2 linked regions of the Homo sapiens genome follow. The protein of the gene in region 2 interacts with the protein of the main gene of each other region in a pairwise test. Each region holds a gene or a part of one and is shown on either strand. Other genes may lie near its edges.

Region 1 (11,024 bases), on a different chromosome or scaffold from region 2:
AAGCTACTGGCATGTAGTGGGTGGGGGCTGGGGTGCTGCCCAGCATCCTATGATACATAGGACAGCCTCCACCACATAGAATGATCTGCCTCAAATATCCATAGTGCCAAGGCTGAGAAGCTGCTCTAAAGAGTGGGGTCAATTCTGCATCAGCATTTACAGGAGGAACATATAAAGTACTCCCCAGGGTAAGCCTAAGATGGAAGCCCTGAATCTGCTGTTCTCACAGCAAAGCTCACGCTGAGTGTCTCGCCCTGTGAGTATCTGCGCACAATGTAATGTAAGATATGGAGTCTAGAGCCCGATTCCAAGGGTTCAAATCTCCTCTGTTTTTTCTTTTTAGAGGTGGGTTCTTGCTATGTTGTCCAGGCTGGACTCGAACTCCTGGACTGAAGCCATCCTCTCACCTCAGCCTCCCTAGTAACTGGGATTACAGGTGCATGCCACCGTGTCAGGCTCAAATCCCTTCCTTGAAGTGAACAGGTGTGTGACATTGAGCAAGTCACTCAGCTCTCTCTGTTAGCTTCAGTCTTTTTAATCTTGACTCTGAGAAAATGATAGTGCCTAGGTTTGTAATGAAGATGAAATGAATTATGCTAAATAAAAAACCTGGAATAGTGCTTGCATATAGTAAGTGCTGGGGAAGTGTTTGCTATTGTTATTTTTCATTCAACATAAGTTCCCCCAAACAGCAGCCAACAATTTCAAGCGGGGCTCATGTCCAGGACTGCTTTTGTATCCAATGGCAGATAAAGTGATGGCTAAAGACTTCTTGAAAGACAAAAGTTACTTGATTGGCTAGTTAGGGATTTTCAGGGGTGATTTTTACTTCACGTGTTTGCCTGAAGACCTGAGCCCACTAACATGTGATTTCCTGTAGTGTCTGAGACCACAGGACAATGATCTTCTCAATATGACATTCACTAGGCTGAACAAGGACCAACCAAGAAATAATAAGCAGGCTGGGTGCAGTGGCTCATACCTTTAATCCCAGCACTTTGGGAGGCCAAGGCAGGAGGATCACTGAGGCTAGGAGTTTTGAGACCCGGTCTCTACAAAAAATAAAAATAAAATTAGCAGGGTGTAGTAGTGCATGCTTGTATTCCCAGCTACTGAGGAGGCTGAGAAGGGAGGATTGCTTGAGCTCAGGGGGTTGAGGCTGCAGTGAGCCATGATTACACCACTGCACTCCAGCCTGGGCAACAGAACAAGATCTTATCCCCCCACAACTCCCCAAAAGAAAAAGAAACACTGGTCAAACCCCACAAACAAAACCAGCTCTGACAGCTGAGACCAAAATTAGATCTAAGAAATCTGTCTGTGGCAGGAAGAGACTTTCCTACTTTGGGTGGAAATTCATGGAAGCCCATGACCTTTGGGTTCGGAGGAATTCTGTGAAAACAGTGCCTTGAAAGCATAACATAACTTTCCACAGGAAGACAGTTTCCAACTCCAGGAGAACTCCAGTGTGATGGGGTGAGCTGAGAACATGCCTCTGCACAGCCCAGGATGCGGAAGTCACACTCGTGATCAGAATAACAGGTGCCACTTCTGAAGCCCACAAGGGGCATCAGGAGCCCTGCCAGGTCCCCTAAACACATTGTGCACCTCATTTAATCATCTTTTTACAACCTTATAATACAGCCAACATCAACCCCATTTTACAGAAAAGAAAAGTGGGTACCCAGAAGGTGTCATGGTCACTGTTCAAGTTCAAGGTCACTGTGAGTCAAGGGTTAACATCGGGCCTGGGCTGATGGGGGCCTGCCTGGGAATGACCCTGGCCTCCCGTAGCACAGAGGCTCCACGAGGACTGTTGTATCTGCCACCCACTGCCCCTGCACTGGAGGGACTGAGTTGGCCAGCAGGCCTTGGGTCTGGGTAAACAGAGTCATAGAAAAGGTTGGTGGGAAACGGAGGCTACAGCTTCTGTGATTCAAGGTAACCCATAGTGCTTTGGCTCTCGCCTGTGGCAGCCAGACACAATTCTTGCAGTAGTAGAGCAAAAGGAGCTATGTGGGTGCAGGGGCTAGATCTCCCAATGAGCTGAAGATGCCCTACCTCTGTCTTCCTATAGAGCTGAGGAAACATAGTTTTATATCAAAGCCTATTTGCACCTGCCAGCTTGGGCCCAGAACTGTACTGTGGGGGTGCAGTCACTTGGCTAGGGAGTGGTAGAATCAAGATCCAGGTCTGTCTGACCTAAAGCCCAGGCTCCTCCTGCATCCCAAGGCAGCTGGAAACCCACAACACTCACTCACAGCTGGTCTGCAACACAGCACGGCTAAAACAGAGTTACCATGTGGCCCAGCAATTCCACTCCTAGGTATGTGCCCAAAAGAACCAAAAATGTATGCCCCAAAAAAAGCACGTACATAAACATTCATAGCAACATTACTCATAACAACACAAAAGCAGAAACAACTCAAATGCCCATCAATGTATGAATGGATAAACAGAATGTGGTATGTCCACACAATGGGTGATTATTTGACCATCAAAAGGAATGAAATAATGGTAAACACCTAAACCGGGATGAACCTGGAAAATATGCTAAGTGAAAGAAGCCAGACAAAAAGCCACATATTGTACAAAACATGTGTCACCTAGACTGGGCTAAGGGATACCCAGATCACATCTGGGTCTGTGAAGGTGTTTCTAGGAAAAAAAAAAAATTAGCATTTGAATTGGTGGACGGAGAAAAGAAGATCCACCCTCATGCAGTGGCTCATGGCTGTAATCCCAGCACTTTGAGAGGCCAAGGTGGGAGGATCACTTGAGCTCTGGAGCTCAAGACCAGCCTGGGCAACATAGTGATCCCGTCTCTACAAAAAATAGAAAAATTAGGCAGGCGTGGTGGTGCATGCCTGTAGTCCCAGCTACTCAGGAGGCTGAGGCAGGAGGATCAATTGAGCCCGGGAGGTGGAGGCTGCAGTGAGTTGAGATCACACCATGGTATTCCAGCCTGGGTGACAGAGCAAGACCCTGTCTCAAAAAAAAAAAAAAAGAAAAGAAAAGAAAAGAAAAAAGAAGGCCCTCCCTTCCCAATCTGGATGGGCATTATCCAAACCTTTGAGGGCCTGAATACGACAACAAAGAAAGGAAGAGGGAATTTCCTCTCCCTGCTTGAGCTAGGATAGCCGTCCTCATCTCCTCTCAGACATCATACCTCCTGGTTTTGGGGCCTTTGGAGTCAGACTAGGCCTTACACGTCGGCCCCTCTGTTCTGGGGCTTTCAGATTCAGAATGAGACACTGTAGGCTCCCCTGGTTCCCAGGCCTTCGGGCTAGGATGGGTTTTATGCCACCGGCGTTCCTGGGCCTGCTGCTTGTGGATGGCAGATCGTGGGACTTCTCAGTCTCCAAAATTGCATGAATGAATTCCTCATAATAAATCTCTTTCTCCATACTTACAGATATCCTATTGGTTTTGTTTCTTTGGAGATCCATGACTAACCCAGATTTCATTTACATGAAATGTCCGGAACAGGCAAATTCATAGGAACAGAAAGTAGACTAGTGGTTCCCAGGGGCTTGGGGAAAGGGAAGATGGGTAGGGACTGTCTGATGGGTACAGGGCTCCCATTTGGCGCAGTGAAAAACTTCTGGAACTACATAGTAGTAATGGATGTACAACCTTGTGAATGTATCAAAATCAAAACTGAATCATACACTTTTAAAGAAGAAATTGGTGGAATGTGAATTATATTTCTTTTTATTTATTTTGTTTTTTGAGACAGGATCTTGCTCTGTCACCCAGGCTAGAGTGCAGTGGTGTGATAATGGCTTACTGCAGCCTTGACCTCCCAGGCTCAAGCAATCTTCCTACCTCAGCCTCCCAAGTACCTGGGACTACAGGTGTGTGCCACCACGTCTGGCTACTTTTTGTATTTTCTGTAGATAACGGGGTTTTGCCATGTTGCTCAGGCTGGTCTCAAACTCCTGGCCTCAAGCAATCCACCTGACTCAGCCTCCCAAAGTGCTGGAACTACAGGCATGAGCCACAGTGCCTGGCCATGAATTATATTATATTAAATTAAACACACACACACACACACATACACTGACACTAAAAGCAAAGGAAACAAAAGGTACAAATCGGCCACTTTAGGAGGCCGAGGCGGGCGGATCACGAGGTCAGGAGATCGAGACCATCCTGGCTAACATGGTGAAACCCCGTCTCTACTAAAAATACAAAAAGTTAGCCGGGCATGGTGGCTGGCACCTGTAGTCCCATCTACTCGGCAGGCTGAGGCAGGAGAATGGCGTGAACCCGGGAAGTGGAGCTTGCAGTGAGCCAAGATCACGCCACTGCACTCCAGCCTGGGGGACAGAGCAAGACTCCGTCTCAAAAAAAAAAAAAAAAAAAAAGTACAAAAAGGCAAACGGAATTACATTAAACCTAAAAACTTTTGTGCATCAGAAGACACAACCAACAGAATGAAAAGGCAGCCTATAGAATAAGAGAAAATATTAATATACAGAATAAAGACCTCAACAACAAAAATCCGATAACTGATTAAAAAAAACGGGCAAGAGACTTGAATAGACATTTCTCCAAAGGTGATATACAAGTGGACACATAGCACATGAAAAAATGCTCAGCAGCATCATTAACCATTAGGGATATGCCAATCTACACCACAACGAAATACCATGGTTATCACACCCATGAGGTGGTTACTATCAAAAACACAGTCAATAACAATGTTGGCAAGGATGCGGAGAAACTGGGACCCTTGTACAGTGTTGATGGGATTGTAAAATGGTGTAACTGATGTGGAAAACAGTATGGTAGTTCCTCAAAAAATTAAAAATAGAACTACCATAGGATCCAGCAATCCCACTTGTGGGTATATGGCCAAAAGAATTGAAAGCAGAATCTCAAAAAGAGATTTGCATACCCACATTCATTGCAGTACTGTTCTCAACAGCAAGAGGTACAAGTGTACCCAAGTGGATGAATGGGTCAACAAAACATAGTTTATTCATATCATGGAACTATTATCCAGCCTTAAAAAGGAAGGAAATTCTGGCACATTTTGTAACATGGATGAAACTTGAGGACGTTATGCTAAGTGAAGTAAGCCAATAAAAAAAGGACAAATACTGTATGACCCTTTTATGGGGTCCCTAGAGTAGTCAAATGCATACAGACAGAAAGGAGAATGGTATTTACCAGGGGCTGGGGGAAGGAGAGTTGTTAAACGGCACAGAGTTTCAGTTTTGCAAGATGAAAACACTCTGTTTCACAACGTGACTATACTTGAACTACTAAACTGTATAATTTAAAATGACTAAGATGGAATTTTACGCTGTGGGTTTTTTTTAATCACAGTTTTTTAAAGTTGAAAAAAAAAGTAAAAAGAAATAAAAAGTTTGCCCACCGGGGAAAAACACATACAGCATGGCTAACATTTCCTCTGTGTGCCCAGCTCTGCTGTGGAATCACACCCTCCACTGATCCTGCAAGATGTGATGTACTTCCCAGGCCCCCCACCGCAACACTGCACCTCACTGACCTGGAACCAGGGACAGAAAGAGCAGAGACCAGAGCTCCATCCCCAGGGCTTAGCCCAGCACCTGCCCCTGGCAGATGTTGAATAAATATTTAGTAAATAAACTGTATAATAACCACGTGGTGAAGTCAGGCTGATACAATTATCCCCATTTTACCGACTGGCCAATGGAGGCCCAGCAAAGTAAGGTGACCTGTCCAAAAATCACAAAGCCAGAAAGTGATAAAGGAAGAGATGAACCCAATGTCCCAGACTCCTGTGACAGGCCCCCTTCCACAGCATCACCTCCTTTCGATGTCAGCCTGGAATCCATTTCAACAAGGGATTTACAAATAACTGTTTTCACTCTATACTAGCGATTCTTAACTTTTTTGGATCATGGGCCCATTTGATAATCCAATTAATGTTTGGATCCTTTGGGAGCACTTTGGGAAGATGAGGCAGAGAGATCGCTTGAGTCCAGGAGTTTGAGATCAGCATGGACAACATAGCAAGACTCCGTCTCATAAACAAACAAATAAACAAATAAATAAATAAAGTTTGGATCCTTTTTCTAAAACAACACACATATGAAACTTAGATAATAGTTTTCAGAGGTTTCCTGAACCCCTGAAGCCCATCTGTAGACCTCAGTTAAGAATTCCCTTTCTAGGCCGGGCATGGTGGCTCACGCCTGTAATCCCAGCACTTTGGGAGGCCAAGGCACTAGGATCACTCAAGATCAGGAGTTCAAGCCTGGCCAACATGATGAAACCCTGTCTCTACTAAAAATACAAAATTAGCCAGCGTGGTGGCACGCACCTGTAATCCCAGCTACTCAGGAGGCTGAGGCAGGAGAATCACTTGAACCCGGGAGGCAGAGGTTGCAGTGAGCCGAGATCGCACCACTGCACTCCAGCCTGGGCAAAAAGAGTGAAACTCCATCTCAAAAAAAAAAAAAAAAAAAAAAAAAAAAAAATTCCCTTTCTACACTGCAATCTGGGTAAATTCATTTGTTCTCAGGATTTTAGAGCCATCTCTACATTCCTACACATCAGAATCAATGGGGTGCTATTTTAAATTCATGTTCCTAGGCCCATCCCCTGTGAATCTGGTTAAATAAGTCCAGGGCCAGACCCAGGAATCTGCATTAGGCACACCGAGGATTCTGGGATGGGTGGCTCTCAAACATACCCACCTGGATACATGAACTGCTGCCTCCCAGATCTCTGATTGCAGCCCTGGTGACTTCTCGAGCTCCTGGCCTCTCCTCCCAGCTGTCCACTGGCTACTAGAATGTTCCAACACAGACTAACAAGGACCACTCTGAGTTCAACATCTTTCCCCCAGAAGTGCTTCTTCACCTGACTCACCAGACCACCAGCCTGAGTGTCACCCTGATGATCCCTGTCCCTACCCCACATCTTGACCACCAGCAAGGCGGGCCGATTCTACCTCCCCTGTGCCTCTGGGCCCCTTTCCTCTGTCATCCCTGCCAGTGCCTTGGTCTGATCTCCTATCCTACTTCCACCCCAACAACCCAGCCTCCATCACTGCCCTGAGCAAAATCCTTCCATGGTGACCGAACTCTGGAACTGCCCTGCCCAATGCCACAGCCACATGTGGCTATTTACATTCAAATTAATTAAATAATATCAAAACATTTGTCCCTCAGGCGCCCTGGCCACATTTCAGACATTTAATCACCACAGGTGGCTGAGGCCACCGTGCTGCACAGCACAGATAAAGGCACAGCCCCATCCTCATAGAAGGTTCAGTGGACAATGCACCTCCAGAGCTTGGAGCTTGGTTGCTAAGTGCTGCAGGGTCTGGCCCCGATCTCCACGCAGGCCACTTCCCAGCACCTGGGTCTTGAGCCACATGGAACCACCCTAAATTCATGACCTTACCTCCAAGCCTCCCCATGGTATATCTACCCTTCCCAGCCTAACCAACTCCTACCCTACCTGTGGGTCCCAGCTTAGCTGGTACCTCCTTCTCTGGCCAGGATAGGAGCCCCAGCTTCTGCCTATCCCAGCGTTTAAAATACTGAGTTCTGGCCAGGCACAGTGGCTCACACCTATAATCTCAGCACTGTGGGAGGCTGAAGTAGGTAGGTAGGGAGGCTGAGATCAGGAGTTTGAGACCAGCCTGGCCAACATGGCGAAACTCCATCTCTACTAAAACAAAACAAAACAAAAAACATAAAAATCAGCCAAGCGTGGTGGCGTGCACCTGCAGTCCCAGCTACTTGGGAGACTGAGGCGGGAGAACTGCTTGAACCCAAGAGGCAGAGGTTGTAGTGAGCCGAGATTGCACCACTGTGCTCCAGCGTGGGTGACAGTGAGACTCCATCTCAAAAACAAAAACAAAAACAAAACAAAACAAAAATACTGAGTTGTAATAGCCACTGGTATGCCTACTCCCACCCTGCAAACCAGTGGTTTTCAACCGGGGGCAAGTTTGCCCCACAGAGGATATTTGGCAATGCCTGAGACTTTATGGATGGGCTGCTACTGGCATCTGGTGAATAGAGGCCAGGAATGCTGCTAAACATCCCACGGTGCACAGGACACTCCTTACAGCAAAGAAGTATCTGGCCTAAAATGTCTGGAGTGCTAACATTAAGCAAACCTGCCCTAGATTGGGCAATCTGTAAAGGCAGGAGTGGGGTCCTGAACACTGCATTTCCCCAGCCACTAGCCCAGAGTTGAGCATACAGTAGATACTCAATAGAAATTGAACACATATGAGTTCAGATGTTCTAGAAGATTCTTTACCCAGGATTCCAGTTCTTTTGGAATCTTCATTTGCAGTGTCTTCCCTTAAAGATAATCATTGGCCATTATGGTGGGATGAATAATAGCCTCCGAAAATATCCAGGTCCTGGATGGGTGCAGTGGCTCATGCCTGTAATCCCAAGGCTTTAAGAGGCTGACACGGGAAGAGTACTTGAGGCCGGAAGTTCCAGATCAGCCTGGACAACATACCAAGACCCCATCTCTACAAAATTAAATTTTTAAAAAATTAGCCTGGCATGGTGGCAACACCTATAGTCCTAGCTACTAGGGAGGCTGAGGCAGGAGGAACTCTTGAACCCAAAAGTTTGAGGTTCCAGTGAGCCATAATTGTACTACTGCACTATATAGCCTTGGCAACAGAGCAAAACCCTATCTCAAAAAAAAAAAAAAAAAAAAGAAATCCAGGTTCTAATCCCCAGAAATTGTGACAGCCACCATATATGATGAAAGGGACTTTGCAGATGTAATTTAATTATTTAATTAAGAATTTTTTTTTTTTGAGACAGGGTCTCACTCTGTCGCCCAGACTGGAGTGTAGTGGTGTGATCTCAGCCCACTGCAGCCTCTACCTCCCGGGTTCAAGTGATTCTCCTTCCCCAGCCTCCTGAGTGGCTGAGATTACAGGTGCATGCCACTACACCCAGCTAATTTTTGTATTTTTTGTAGAAACAGGGTTTCACCATGTTGGCCAGGCTGGTCACAAACTTCTGACCTCAAGTGATCTGCCCGCCTTGGCCTCCCAAAGTGCTGAGATTACTTACAGGTGTGAGCCATGCACTCAGCCTATAATTAAGGATCTTGAGATGCAAAGGTTATCCTAGATTATCTGGGTGGACGCTAAATGCCAACACAATAGTCCTTATAAGAAAGAGGCACGGGGGAAGTGGGGAGGGATAGCATTAGGTGATATACCTAATGCTAAATGACGAGTTAATGGGTGCAGCACACCAACATGGCACATGTATACATATGTAACGAACCTTCACGTTGTGCACATGTACCCTAAAACTTAAAGTACAATAATAATAAAAAATAAATAAAATAAAAAAAAAGAAAGAGGCACAGGGAAACTTCACACACACACACACACACACACACACACACACACACGTCACCTGACCATGGAACAGAGAGAGATGTGAACATGCTATAACACTGGCCTTGAAGACGGAGGAACAGGCCACAAGCCACAGAATGCCAGCAGTCACCAAAAGCTGGAAAAGGCAAAGAATGGATTTTCCCCTAATTCTTCCGAAGGGAGTGTGGCACTGCTGCCACCTTGGTTTCAGCCCAGGAACACTGACTGTGGACTTCTGGCCTCCAGAACTGCAGGAGAATAAACTTCTTTTGTCTTAAGCCAAGATGATAATGGTAATTTGTTCTAGCGGCCATAGGAAACTAATACAGTCTATTACTTTCTGGGGTTTATTAGGTTTGAATCAGAGAGTTTGATTTTAAAAACAGAGACTTTACAAGGAATGGCATTTGGGTGCCAGGGCTCGTCCCATGCCTACTGGCTCTGATAGCTGGAAGCAGAACTGGGTGGGTGAGTGAGGCTGAGCTGTGGGTGTTTCTAGAAGTGGCTGCCGCCTGGGCCATCGGCAACCACGTTCACAGGTCATCCCTCATGCCTTGGTCATGCCACCTTCTGGGATGCTAGAGGTCTCAGGCAGTTAAGTGACTTGACCCAGGACAAGTCTGTCTAGCTAGACTCAGCAGGGATTAGAATAAAACTCCAAGCTCTCTTCCACTTGTCCAGCCCACTGCCAAGCTTGCTCCCCTCTGGCCTCAGTGGCTTTCTCTGATCTTACAACATAGCCCCAGGGCCTTTGCGCTTGCTGTTCCTTCAGCTTGGAACACTCTCCCTCTGGAGTCTCCCATGGCTGGCTGCTTCTCATCATTCTGGTCTCAGCTCAAATGCCACCTCCTCAGAGAGGCCCTCCATGGCTGCACTAAGGCAAGTGGCCTTCTCTAGTTACCTTCTCTTTCATCACAGGGCTGATTTTCTTCTCACATTCAATTATCTCATTAATCTCCTTGCCTGTTCAACATCAACTCCACCCCTTCTTCCTCCCTCTCCCAATGCAGGCTCCAGGAGGGCAGGGACTTTGTCTGATGTGTCCACAGATATGTCCCCAGCCCCAGACCTGGCACACAGTAGGTGCTCAATATATTTTGAATGAATGAGTGAGTAAATGAATGAATTTGCAGCTTTGGGGAACGCCTGACCCAAGCTCCATCCCAACACACCTGATCTTGGCTTTCCTAAAGGCCAGCTCCTCCTCGTTTCCAAAGTCCAGGGACACATCCTCGGTATCGTCCACCAGGGCCTGGGAGGAGAGCAAGGGCAGGTGGCAGGCCCAAGCACGGCGCACACCCCAACCCCACCCGCCCTGTCCTCCTGGGCTTGGACTCCACTTGCACCCCACCGGGTTCCCAAGTGGACCCTCCGAGCTGGCGGGGCCCCTCCGCTGCGGCTGCAGTGCAAAGCCCTCTCCACCCTCCCGACCACCGGGTGCAGCCCAGCCCCAGGCCCCGGCGCATCCCTCCTCCTCCTCCCGGCTTCTCCAGCGCTCCCGCAGGCTCCCCTCGTCCCGCCCCGCCTCCAGCCCCAGCATCCCCGAGGCCCTACCTGCTTCATCACCCTCCCAGGAGCCCACCTGGCGCCCAGGCCCGGGGCTCCAGCTCCGCCCGTCGCCGCTGAAGGGGTCGGACGCCGGGCGGGC
Region 2 (11,871 bases):
TTGCACGTATTTAATATGACCTGTTTTTTTCCAAGAATGCAACTACTATGTAAATTGTTTTGTATTGTTCAGAACTTTATCAAAAGTTGTTTACCATTTTGGAAAATCACAACCCTAATGGCAATGCTGTTCTATACAACACCCTTAGGTCAGTCTGCATTTATCTCTACCACACTCTTAGTGATTCTAGGTATGGGTGCAAGTATCTGACTACTTTATCTTCTAGTGTAATGGTGCCTGGGTATTTGCATATTGAAACGCCATCCTTCTATTTGTCTTTTTTTTTTTTTTGAGACGGAGTTTCACTCTCATTGCCCAGGCTGGAGTGCAATGGCATGCTCTTAGCTCACTGCAACCTCTGCTTCCCGGGTTCAAGCAATTCTCCTGCCTCAGCCTCCTGAGTAGCTGCGATTAAAGGTGCCCACCATCATGCCTGGCTAATTCTTTATATTTTTAGTAGAGATGAGATTTCCCCATGTTGGCCAGGCTGGTCTTGAACTCCTAACCTCAGGTAATCCACCCGCCTTGGCCTACCAAAGTGCTGGGATTGCAAGTGTGAGCCACCGTGCCCGGCCTATTTGTCTTTTTTATAATCAAGACATCATATTGATTTGTTTTTTGAAATCATGTGTCCAGGCAGGTTATATTATCTGTTCATTTCACTTTGGGATATTAGTGTTGCAAAATATTTGTTATAAGAAAGGAACATTGGGACTGGGTGTAGTGGCTTACACATGTAATCCCAGCACTCTAGGAGGCTAAGGCAGGAGGATCACTGGAACCTAGGCGTTCCAGATCAGCCTGGGTAACACAGTGAGACCTTGTCTCTACTAAAAACAAAAAAAAAATTAGCTGGGCATGGTGGTGTGGGCCTGTAGTCACAGCTATTTGGAAAGCTGTGGCAGGATTGCTTGAACCTTGGAGTTCCAAGTTACAGCCACCTATGATTGTGCTACTGCATTCCAGCCTGGGTGACGGAGCAAGACCCTGTGACATTGGATATGGTAGGGTGGAAAGTCACCAGCCAGGACATTAAGAACGCAGACTCAGCCAGGCATGGTGACTCATGCCTGTAATCCCAGCCCTTTGGGAGGCTGAGGCAGGCAGATCACGAGGTCAGGAGTTCGAGACCAGCCTGGCTAACAGTGAAACCCTGTCTCTAAGAAAAATGCAAAAATTAGCCAGGTGTGGTGGCATGCGCCTGTAGTCCCAGCTACTCGGGAGGCTGAGGCAGGAGAATCGCTTGAACCTGGGAGGTGAAGGTTGAAGTGAGCCGAGGTCGCACCATTGCACTCAAGCCTGGGTGACAGAATGAGACTCCATCTAAAAAAAAAACACACAAAGGCCGGGCGCGGTGGCTCATGCCTGTAATCCCAGCACTTTGGGAGGCCGAGGTGGGTGGATCATGAGGTCAGGAGATCGAGACCATCCTGGCTAACACAGTGAAACCCTGTCTCTACTAAAAATACAAAAAATTAGCCGGGCGTGGTGGTGGGTGCCTGTTGTCCCAGCTACTCAGGAGGCTGAGGCAGGAGAATGGCGTGAACCCGGGAGGTGGAGCTTGCAGTGAGCCGAGATCGTGCCACTGCACTCCAGCCTGGGCGACAGAGTGAGACTCCGTCTCAAAAAAACAAAAAACAAAAAACAAAAAAAAACCACACACACAGGCTCAGCGGGGTGCGGTGGCTCACGCCTGTAATCCCAGCACTTTGGGAGTCCGAGGAGGGTGGATCACAAGGTCAGGAGTTCCAGACCAGCCTGGCCAACATAGTGAAACCCCTTCTCTACTAAAAAATACAAAAATTAGCCAGGTGTGGTGGAGCACGCCTGTAATTCCAGGTACTCAGGAGGCTGATGCAGGAGAATTGCTTGAACCCAGGAGGTGGAGTTTGCAGTGAGCTGAAATCATGCCACTGCTCTCCAGCCTGGGCGACAGGGCAAGATGTGTCTCGAAAAAAAAAAAAGGGGTTGGGCGCAGTAGCACATTCCTCTAATTCCAGCACTTTGGGAGGCCAAGGCTGGCGGATCACCTGAGGTCAGGAGTTCAAGACCAGCCTGACCAACATGGATAAACCCCGTCTCTACTAAAAATACAAAATTAGCTGGGCATGGTGGCACATGCCTGTAATCCCAGCTACTAGGGAGGCTGAGGCAGCAGAATAGTTTGAACCCAGGAGGTGGAGGTTGCGGTGAGCCGAGATCTCGCCATTGCACTCTAGCCTGGGCAACAAGAGTGAAACTCTGTCTCAAAAAAAAAAAAAAAAAATGCCGGGCGCAGTGGCTCACGCCTGTAATCCCAGCACTTTGGGAGGCCGAGGCGGGCGGATCACGAGGTCAGGAGATTGAGACCATCCTGGCTAACATGGTGAAACCCCGTCTCTACCAAAAATACAAAAAAAAAAAATTAGCCAGGTGTGGTGGTGGGCTCCTGTAGTCCCAGCTACTCAGGAGGCTGAGGCAGGAGAATGGTGTGAGCCTGGGAGGTGGAACTTGCAGTGAGCCGAGATCTCGCCACTGCACTCCAGCCTGGGCGAGAGAGCGAGACTCCATCTCAAAACAAACAAACAAACAAACAAAAAAACAAAGGGCCAGGTGTGGTGGCTTACACCTGTAATCCCAGCACTTTGGGAGGCCAAGGCAGGTGGATCACTTGAGGTCAGGAATTCAAGACCAGCCTGGCAAATATGATGAAACCTCATTTCTACTAAAAATACAAAAACTAGCCGGGCGTGCTGGCATGTGCCTGCAATCCCAGCTACTCGGGAGGCTGAAGCAGAAGAATTGCTTGAACCCGGGAGGCAGAGGTTGCAGTGAGCCGAGATCGCGCCATTGCACTTCAGCCTGGGCAACACAGCAAGACTGTCTGAAACAAACAAACAAAAAACACAGACTCTGGAGATACTTTTACTTTCGCTACTTATAGATATGTGACTTTGAGCAAGATGATTAACCTTGCTGTGTCTGTTTCTTCATCTGTAAAATGGGCTTAAAAATATCTGCCTCAGAAAGTTATTGAGAGGATTAAATGAGCTATGTGAGGTTTTGACAGTGCCTGGCACATGGTAAGTGTTACTAAATGTCAAACTTATGATGACTTCTGTAACCTAATTTCTTGCCTCCCCCAGAAGTTCTAACTCTATATCAATATATTTTCTGAACCAGGTGAGGTGGCTCACACCTGTAATCCCAGCACTTTGGGAGGCCGAAGTAGGAGGATCACTTGAGGCCAGGAGTTCCACACCACCTGGGCAACAAAGGGAGATGCTGTGTCTGTGAAAAGAAAAAAATTGGCCGGGCACCGTGGCTCACGCCTGTAATTCTAGCACTTTGGGAGGCCTAGGCAGGTGGATCACGAGGTCAGGAGATCGAGACCATCCTGGCTAACACGGTGAAACCTCATCTCTACTGAAAATACAAAAAATTAGCTGGGCGTGGTGGCGGGCGCTTGTAGTCCCAGCTACTTGGGAGGCTGAGGCAGGAGAATGGCATGAACCCTGGAGGCGGAGCTTGCAGTGAGCCGAGATTGCACCACTGCACTCCAGCCTGGGGGACAGAGCGAGATTCCTTCTCAAAAAAAAAAGAAAGAAAGAAAAAGAAAAAAAATGTAAAAATTAGCTGCATGTGGTCACCAGTGCCTGCAGTCCCAAATAGGAGGCTGAGGCAGAAGGACCACTTGAGCCCAGAAGTTCAAGACTACAGGCCAGGTGTGGTGGCTCACGCCCATAATCCCAGCACTTTGGGAGACCAAGGTGGATGGATTATCTGAGATCAGGAGTTTGAGACCAGCCTGGCCAACTTGGTGAAACCCCATCTCTACTAAAAACACAAAAATTAGGGCCAGGCGCAGTGGCTCACAACTCTAATCCCAGCACTTTGGAAGGCCAAGGCAGGTGGATCACCTGAGGTCTGGAGTTTGAGACCAACCTTGCCTACATGGTGAAACCCCATCTCTACTAAAAATACAAAAAATTAGCCGGGCGTGTTGGCAGGCGCCTGTAATCCCAGCTACTCGGGAGGCTGAGGCAGGAGAATCGCTTGAACCCGGGAGGCGAGCTGAGATTGCGCCATTGCACTCCAGCCTGGGCAACAAGAGAGAAACTCTGTCTCAAAAAAAAAAAAATACAAAAATTAGACAGGCATGGTGGCTGGTGCCTGTAGTCCCAGCTACTCGGGAGGCTGAGGCAGGAGAATCGCTTGAAGCCAGGAGATGGAGGTTGCATTGAGCTGAGATCACACCACTGCACTCCAGCCTGAGCAATAGAGTGAGACTCATTTTCAAAAAATAGAAAAAATAAAAAGACTGCAGGCCAGGCGCAGTGGCTCATACCTGTAATCCCAGCACTTCAGGAGGCCGAGGCGGGCGGATCATGAGGTCAGGAGATCGAGCCCATCCTGGGTAACATGGTGAAACCTCGTCTTTACTAAAACTACAAAAAAAAAAAAAAAATTAGCCAGGCATGGTGGCAGGTGCCTGTAGTCCCAGCTACTCGGGAGGCTGAGGCAGGAGAATGGTGTGAACCCAGGAGGCGGAGCTTGCAGTGAGCCGAGATTGCGCCACTGCACTCTAGCCTGTGCGTCAGAGCGAGACTCTGTCTCCAAAAAAAAAAAAAAAAAAGACTGCAGTGAGCCATTACTGTGCCACTGCACTGCAGCATGTCTTTAAAAGACCCTGTCTCTTAAAAAAAAAAAAAAGTGCGTTCAGTTATTGGAATGTGCCATGATTCTTCTTGCTTTGCCCAAACTCTCCCTACAATGCTTTTCCTTCACTTCTTCCCTGGTCAATTCCTACCTGTCCCTCAAGTCTCACTTAGAATATGGGTATGGCCTCACTTAGTTACTTTCTTTTTTCTTCCTTTAGACAGGGTTTCACTCTATTGCTCGGGCTGGAGTGCAGTGGCCAATCATGGCTCAGCCCAGCCTTGATCTCCTGGGCTTAAGTGATCCTCCCATATCAGCCTCCCAAGTAGCTGGAACCACAGGCTCACACCACCGTGTCCAGCTAATTTTTTTTTTTTTTTTTGAGACAGAGTCTCACTCTCGTTGCCCAGGCTAGAGTGCAATGGAGTGATCTCAGCTCACCGCTACCTCCGCCTCCTGGGTTCAAGCGATTCTCCTGCCTCAGCATCCCAAGTAGCTGGGATTACAGGCATGTGCCAACACACCTGGCTAATTTTGTATTTGTAGTAGAGACGGGGTTTCACCATGTTGGTCAGGTTGGTCTCGAACTCCCCACCTCAGGTGATCTGCCCGCCTTGGCCTCCCAAAGTGCTGGGATTACGGGCGTGAGCCACCGTGCCCGGTTATATCCGGGTAATTTTTGTAGTAACAAGATTTCACCATGTTTCCCAGGCTGGTCTTGAACTTCTGGGCTCAAGCGATCCCCCCTGTCAGCCTCCCAAAGTGCTGGGATTACAGGCATGAGCCACTGCACTTGGGCCATTTACCTTTTTCATGAAGCCTATATCACTATTTCCCCAAGTCTGGGTGAGATGTCCCTATATTCATCCCAGCGGCTGCCCTTATCACAGAGTGTGTGATAGAGCATGGGGCTTTACATTAGCTACAGTGGGCAGTGAATGCCCTCTGAGGACGAAGCATTTGCAGTAAGGCTTGAAAAATGAGGAAGAGGCGGAGGATAGCCAGTACACAGTCCCTGAGGTGGGAACTGCTGAATGGGGTACATTGCAGTGATAGAAATCAGGTCCTCATAATGTAGAGTGAGTGAGGAGGGGACAGGCAGGGGATGAGGTTGAAGAGTTGGGAGGCTCTGGTAAGGTGTTTGGACCCACCATCTCCCTGGCTCCATCGCCCCACGTATGGCCATGCAGGATGTAGACAGCTGAAAATCTTTACCTCGTGTCCTTGATCCCTATGCCTGCTGTGTTCCCTGCCTTCTCTGATTAATAATAAAATTCCATTCATCCTTCAAGGCCCAGCTCCAAACCATTTAGGAAACCTCCTTCCATTCTTTAGCAGGAATTAATTGCTCCCTTGTCTGACGTCCCACAGCACTAATCACACGCTGACTTGTATCTCAGCTAGCTGTTTATGCCAGTCTGCCCACCAACGTAGTGAGTTCCCTGAGGGCAGAGGCTCTGTCTTAGTCACCTCTGTAGCCATCTCCTGGTGTTTAGCAGGTACTCAATGTGACATTTACTTGACTAGTGGGTGGTGCCTAGTACTACTCATGGCAGAATAGAAGGAAAACAAAAATAATAACAACTTATGCTCTATCACGTTTTCCCATTCATTAACTGATTTCAGCTTTGCAACAACTCTATGAGACAGACGGGACAGGCACTATTAGACCCATTTTACAGATAGGGTAGCTAAGGCCCAATGGCACACAGCTTGTAAGTAATGGGGACTAAGTCCCAATCTTGCCCCCTTACTTCGGATTCTGTGCTGGGAATGGAATTAAACCAAGAGTATTTTGAAGCTATAATGGAAAGCGCTTTTCTGGGTGGACTAGGGAGAGATACTTAGTCAGCTGTCAGGGTTTAACAGCAGCTCCATCAAAGAGGGCACAGGATTTCTCTCTCTGGCCCAAGCAGCTGGAGGGGTCCACAGCACCATCCTATAGCCCTGGAAGCTGGAGGAAACCCCAGCCCGAGAAAGAAGAGACGGTGTTCGAGTCAGGTGGGTAAGATGACGTAAATGATGACTTGTGAGCAGTGGCCTGCCTCTGTTGCCATGACAACCGGAGCTTGACTACTTGGCCTTTGCAAGGTTGGCCGAGGCGGGTTCTTCGTTAACTCGAGATTAAGGAAGGATATTTAGGGGGGAGGGTGTGTGTGTGTGCGGCGGATTAAAGACGAAAGGAGTATATTCAACAATGACTGTTTAGCTCAGTGGTTCTCCACCTTGGCAACACGTTAGAATCACCTGCAACAATTTCCTGATGCCTAGGCTGCACCCCAGAATTAAATTATAATTTCCAGGGGTGGGAACCAGGCATCATAGTATTTAAATCTTGCCAGGTGATTCCAATTGCAGCTAAAGTTGCAAACCCAGCTTTTAGCTGGTAAGCGGAATTCCTGTGACCTTCCTAAGATGGCGTCCACTCAACCGCTTCCGCCTTTACGTGGGCCGGCAGGGGGCGGGCTTCCCAGGGGCGCATGCGTCTCGCATCTCTCCGCTCCCTGCTCTCTCCTCCTTTTTCCCCCGCCTCCATTTTGTTCGCGGACGCTGGGGACGGTGGGAGCAGATCCATTTCCGGGTTGGCAAAAGGGGCGGTGGCGGCGGCGGCGGCGGCGGCGGCGGCGGCGACGGCGAGAAAGAGCTTGCCGGGGGGCGAGCAGGACAGGACGAAGCCGGAGTGTAGGCGGCAGAGGATTCGCTCCCAGAGCAGCTGCGGCCAGGTCGGAAAGAGGCCGGGGCGGCTGGGTCAGTCGCTGAAATGACCTGCGGACCTGAGTGGGAGGGAAAGTCGCGGGGAGGGGGGCTCGGGGCGGGGCTTGAGAAGAGAGGGGGGCATTAGAGGAGGGGCCGGAGGGGGAGAGGGGTCTTGCGGGTGGGGCCTGAGGGGCGGGGGGCCGGGGGACTGTATCGGAAGAACCTGGAGGAGAGAGGGCGTGGGGAATCTGGGGAGGAGTGGTCGAATATTGGTATGGGGCGAGCGGGGACTGGAAAAATGGGGAGGAACGTTTTTGAGAGACAGGCAATAAGGGCTCCTGAAGGGTTGGGTGAGTTAAGGCGGCAACTCTGTGAGGAACGAGGTAATCGTGCGCAAAAAGGGAGACGGGAACGGAGGACCTGTTGGGAACGGCTAATTAGCAGGATGCTGTGGGTGAGGAGTCCAGTGTGACATTTTGGGGATTGAGTTAGGTGAAAGCTAGTGTTTGGGAAGATGGCTCGGGAAACTGCTTACACTAGAGGGAATCTTGAGAGCGTTCTTTGAAAAGGAATCAGAATTTAGTTAAAGGTTGGATTGAGAATGTTAAGATGCGCATTGGAACGTCTGGAGTTGAGGGTTCATGTTGAAGTGGTGTGAAGTGAGGGAAGATGGAATTTTTTTTTTTTTGTTTTAAAGGTGGGGTCTGGCTATGTTGCTCAGACTAGTCTTGAACTCCTGGGCTCAAGCGATCTTCCCACCTTGGACTCCCAGAGTGCTGGGATTACAGGTGTGAGCCACTGCACCCGGCCAAGATGGAAATGTTAAAGTGTTCAGCATGGCAGTGTGTATGGTCGAGTTTTTTATCAGGAAGGAAAGTTCTTAAAAATAGCATTGAGGCAAGGAACTGATATGTGATGGAATTCTTTTTTCTTTTTTTTTCTTTTAAGAGACGTGGTCTCACTCTGTCGCCCGGGCTGGAGTGCAGTGGCATGATCATGGCTCCTTAAAGCCTCGACCTCCCGGGCTGAAGTGGTCCTTCCACCTAAGCCCCGCCAATAGCTGGGACCACAGGTGTGACCACTACTCCCGCCTAACGTGTGTGTGTGTATATATATATATATATATATATATATATATATATATATATATATGTATATATATATATTTTTTTGTTGTTGTTGTTGGAGACAGAGTCTTGCCCTGTTGTCCAGGCTAGTCTGGAATTCCTGGGCTCAAGTGATCCTCCTGTCTCGGCCTCCGCAAGTGCTGGGATTACAGGGATGAGCCACTGTGCCTGGCCCAGAATTCGTTTTTTTTTTTTTTTTGAGATGGAGTCTCGCTCAGTGGCCTAGGCTGGAGTGTAGCGGTGCGATCTCGGCTCACTGCAAGCTCCGCCTCCCGGGTTCACGCCCATTCTTCTGCCTCAGCCTCCCGAGTAGCTGGGACTATAGGTGCCCACCACCACACCTGGCTAATTTTTTTTTGAATTTTTAGTAGAGACGGGGTTTCACTGTGTTAGCCAGGATGGATGGTCTGGATCTCCTGACCTCGTGATCCGCCCGCCTCTGCCTCCCAGAGTTCTGGGATTAGAGGCGTGAGCCCCTGCGCCTGTCCAGAATTCATATTTTTTAAAGGACTTGAATAATCTGTTATTGCTTTGGGCTCTCCCAGGGTCCCCGTCCTTTTTCATGCTGTTATTTTTGCCTTACGGTTTTGGTTTTTGACTGTCTTACTGAATGTTTTTGGCTATTCTGTTCTCCTTTTACAAATCAGAAGAGAACCACAGGGAATAAGGACAGTTTTAGCCTACCTATGGATTTAGTAAATAACTTCAAGGCAAATTATTAAGCTCTCATTTTTTTCCCCTTTGAAATATAGGTTTTCTCTGTCCCTGCCTCTAAAAGTTTGTCTTAACACATGGGATCTTTAAAGTGGTTGCATAGAAGTGATCTCTGAAAATGAGATTGAGATATTGATATTTAAAAGACATACAATGGTGCACCTGCCTGTAATCCCAGCTACTTGGGAGGCTGAGGCAGGAGGATTGCTTGAGTCTAAGAGTTCGAGACCATTCTGGGCAACGTAGCAATACCCCATCTCTCTCTCTGTCTCTTTTTTTGTTTGTTTGTTTAAGACGGAGTCTCGCTCTTTCACCCAGGCTGGAGTGCAGTGGCGTGATCTCGGCTCACTGCAACCTCTGCCTGCCGGATTCAAGCGCTTCTCCTGCCTCAGTCCCCCAAGTAACTGGTACTATAGGCATGCACCACCACGCCCAGCTAATTTTTTGTATTTTAGTAGAGATGGGGTTTCACCATGTTGGTCAGGCTGGTCTCGAACTCCTGACTTCAGGTGATCCACCCACCTCGGCCTCCCAAAGTGTTGAGATTACAGGCATGAGCTACCACACCTGGCCGCATGTTTAGTTTTTTAACTCTTATTAATGTCAACTTTTAAAAGTAAAAATTTCATATTGTGTTACATTGGTTGCCATCAAGATGAAGATAGGGAAGTTAAGAGTTGGGGAAGGTGGAGATGAATGAAGTCAATTGATGAAGACTAGTAGAATGTAGTGTTGGTTTTTTTATTTGTTTATTTATTTATTTTGAGACAGAGTCTTGCTGTATTGCCCAGGCTGGAGTGCAATGGCACAATCTTGGCTCACTGCAACCTCTGTCTCCTGGGTTCAAGCAATTCTCCTGGCTCAGCCTCCCAAGTAGCTGGGATTACAGGCGCGTGCTGCCACGCCCAGCTAATTTTTGTATTTTTAGTAGAGACAGGGTTTCACCGTATTGGCCAGGCTGGTCTCGAACTCCTGACCTCGTGATCTGCCCACCTTGGCCTCCCAAAGTGCTGGGATTACAGGTGTGAGCCACCGCGCCTGGCCGACCTGTCTCTTAAAGGAAAACAAGGCTGGGCGCGCTGGCTCATGCCTATAATCCCAACGCTTTGGGAGGCCAAGGTGGTGGATCACCTGAGATTGCAGTGAGCTGAGATCGCGCCATTGCACTCCAGCCTGGGCAACAAGAGCGAAACTCCACCTCAACAACAACAACAACAACAACAAAAGGAAACATGTTTTTCTGTTTCTTCCTCTTAGCCTTGCTCATGTGTGTGTGTGTTTGTGTGTGTGTGTGTGTGTCTGCGTGCCAGCCAGGGAAGAACTGGTTTTGATTTGATGCATATTCAGTTTTTTTTTTTTTTTTTTTTTTTTTTTTTTTTTGAGACAGAGTTTCGCTCCTGCTGCCCAGGCTGGAGTGGAATGGCGCAGTCTTGGCTCACTGCAACCTCCGCCTGCCGGATTCAAGCGCTTCTCCTGCCTCAGTCCCCCAAGTAACTGGTACTATAGGCATGCACCACCACGCCCAGCTAATTTTTTGTATTTTAGTAGAGATGGGGTTTCACCATGTTGGTCAGGCTGGTCTCGAACTCCTGACTTCAGGTGATCCACCCACCTCGGCCTCCCAAAGTGTTGAGATTACAGGCATGAGCTACCACACCTGGCCGCATGTTTAGTTTTTTAACTCTTATTAATGTCAACTTTTAAAAGTAAAAATTTCATATTGTGTTACATTGGTTGCCATCAAGATGAAGATAGGGAAGTTAAGAGTTGGGGAAGGTGGAGATGAATGAAGTCAATTGATGAAGACTAGTAGAATGTAGTGTTTGTTTTTTTATTTGTTTATTTATTTATTTTGAGACAGAGTCTTGCTGTATTGCCCAGGCTGGAGTGCAATGGCACAATCTTGGCTCACTGCAACCTCTGTCTCCTGGGTTCAAGCAATTCTCCTGGCTCAGCCTCCCAAGTAGCTGGGATTACAGGCATGTGCCACCTGGCTAATTTTTGTATTTTTAGTAGAGACAGGGTTTTGCCATGTTGGCCAGGCTGGTCATTTACTAATTCCACCTCACACTTGATACTAGAGTAGTGTTTACCCTAGCTGGTACTGATAAGTTATGTGATAGCACCAAGGTGAAATGCAGGAGAGGTGTGAACATTGGAGTTTTCAGGTTTTACTGATGGCTTTTACGAAGGGAAGAGATTCTAGACTCACTAGGTGTTTTTAGGAAAAAAAAAAGGCAAGAGGCAAGAGACAGAAGTCTTGTTCTGTTGAAGAGAAAATTTTTTTTTGGGTTTTTTTTTTTTTTTTTTGAGACGGAGTCTCGCTCAGTTGCCCAGGCTGGAGTGCAATGGCATGATCTCTGCTCACTGCAACCTCCACCTCCCAGGTTCAAGCGATTCTCCTGCCTCAGCCTCCTGAGTAGCTGGGTGCCATCACGCCTGGCTAATTTTTGTATTTTTGTAGAGACGAGGTTTCACTGTGTTGGTCAGGCTGGTCTCGAACTTCTGACCTTGTGATCTGCCAGTCTCGGCCTCCCAAAGTGCTGGGATTACAGGCGTGAGCCACCGCGCCCGGCCCGAGAAAATTATTAAATGTTCTTTCTTTACTTGTGTTCTCTGATTGGGAGAGTAACCTGGTATATGTTAGTCTGTTTTCCTGCTCTGAAATAACTGTGAAATTCATGGGCTCTTGGTT

What was found.
Region 1: the proteins of WIPF2 (region 2) and TVP23A interact in binary tests that used the Homo sapiens proteins (3 or more experiments, as listed by UniProt).

Annotation. Positions count from the first base shown.
Region 1 is NC_000016.10:10,807,555-10,818,578, forward strand, and holds part of TVP23A (Golgi apparatus membrane protein TVP23 homolog A), read right to left. Parts: 5' UTR 10,940-11,024; coding exon 10,931-10,939; intron 10,633-10,930; exon of another isoform or gene 10,629-10,632; coding exon 10,549-10,628; intron 1,053-10,548; exon of another isoform or gene 983-1,052; intron 1-982.
Region 2 is NC_000017.11:40,212,132-40,224,002, forward strand, and holds the start of WIPF2 (WAS/WASL-interacting protein family member 2), read left to right. Parts: upstream 1-7,172; 5' UTR 7,173-7,361; exon of another isoform or gene 7,362-7,386; intron 7,387-7,539; exon of another isoform or gene 7,540-7,789; intron 7,790-11,871. UniProt on the Homo sapiens protein: Plays an active role in the formation of cell surface protrusions downstream of activated PDGFB receptors. Plays an important role in actin-microspike formation through cooperation with WASL.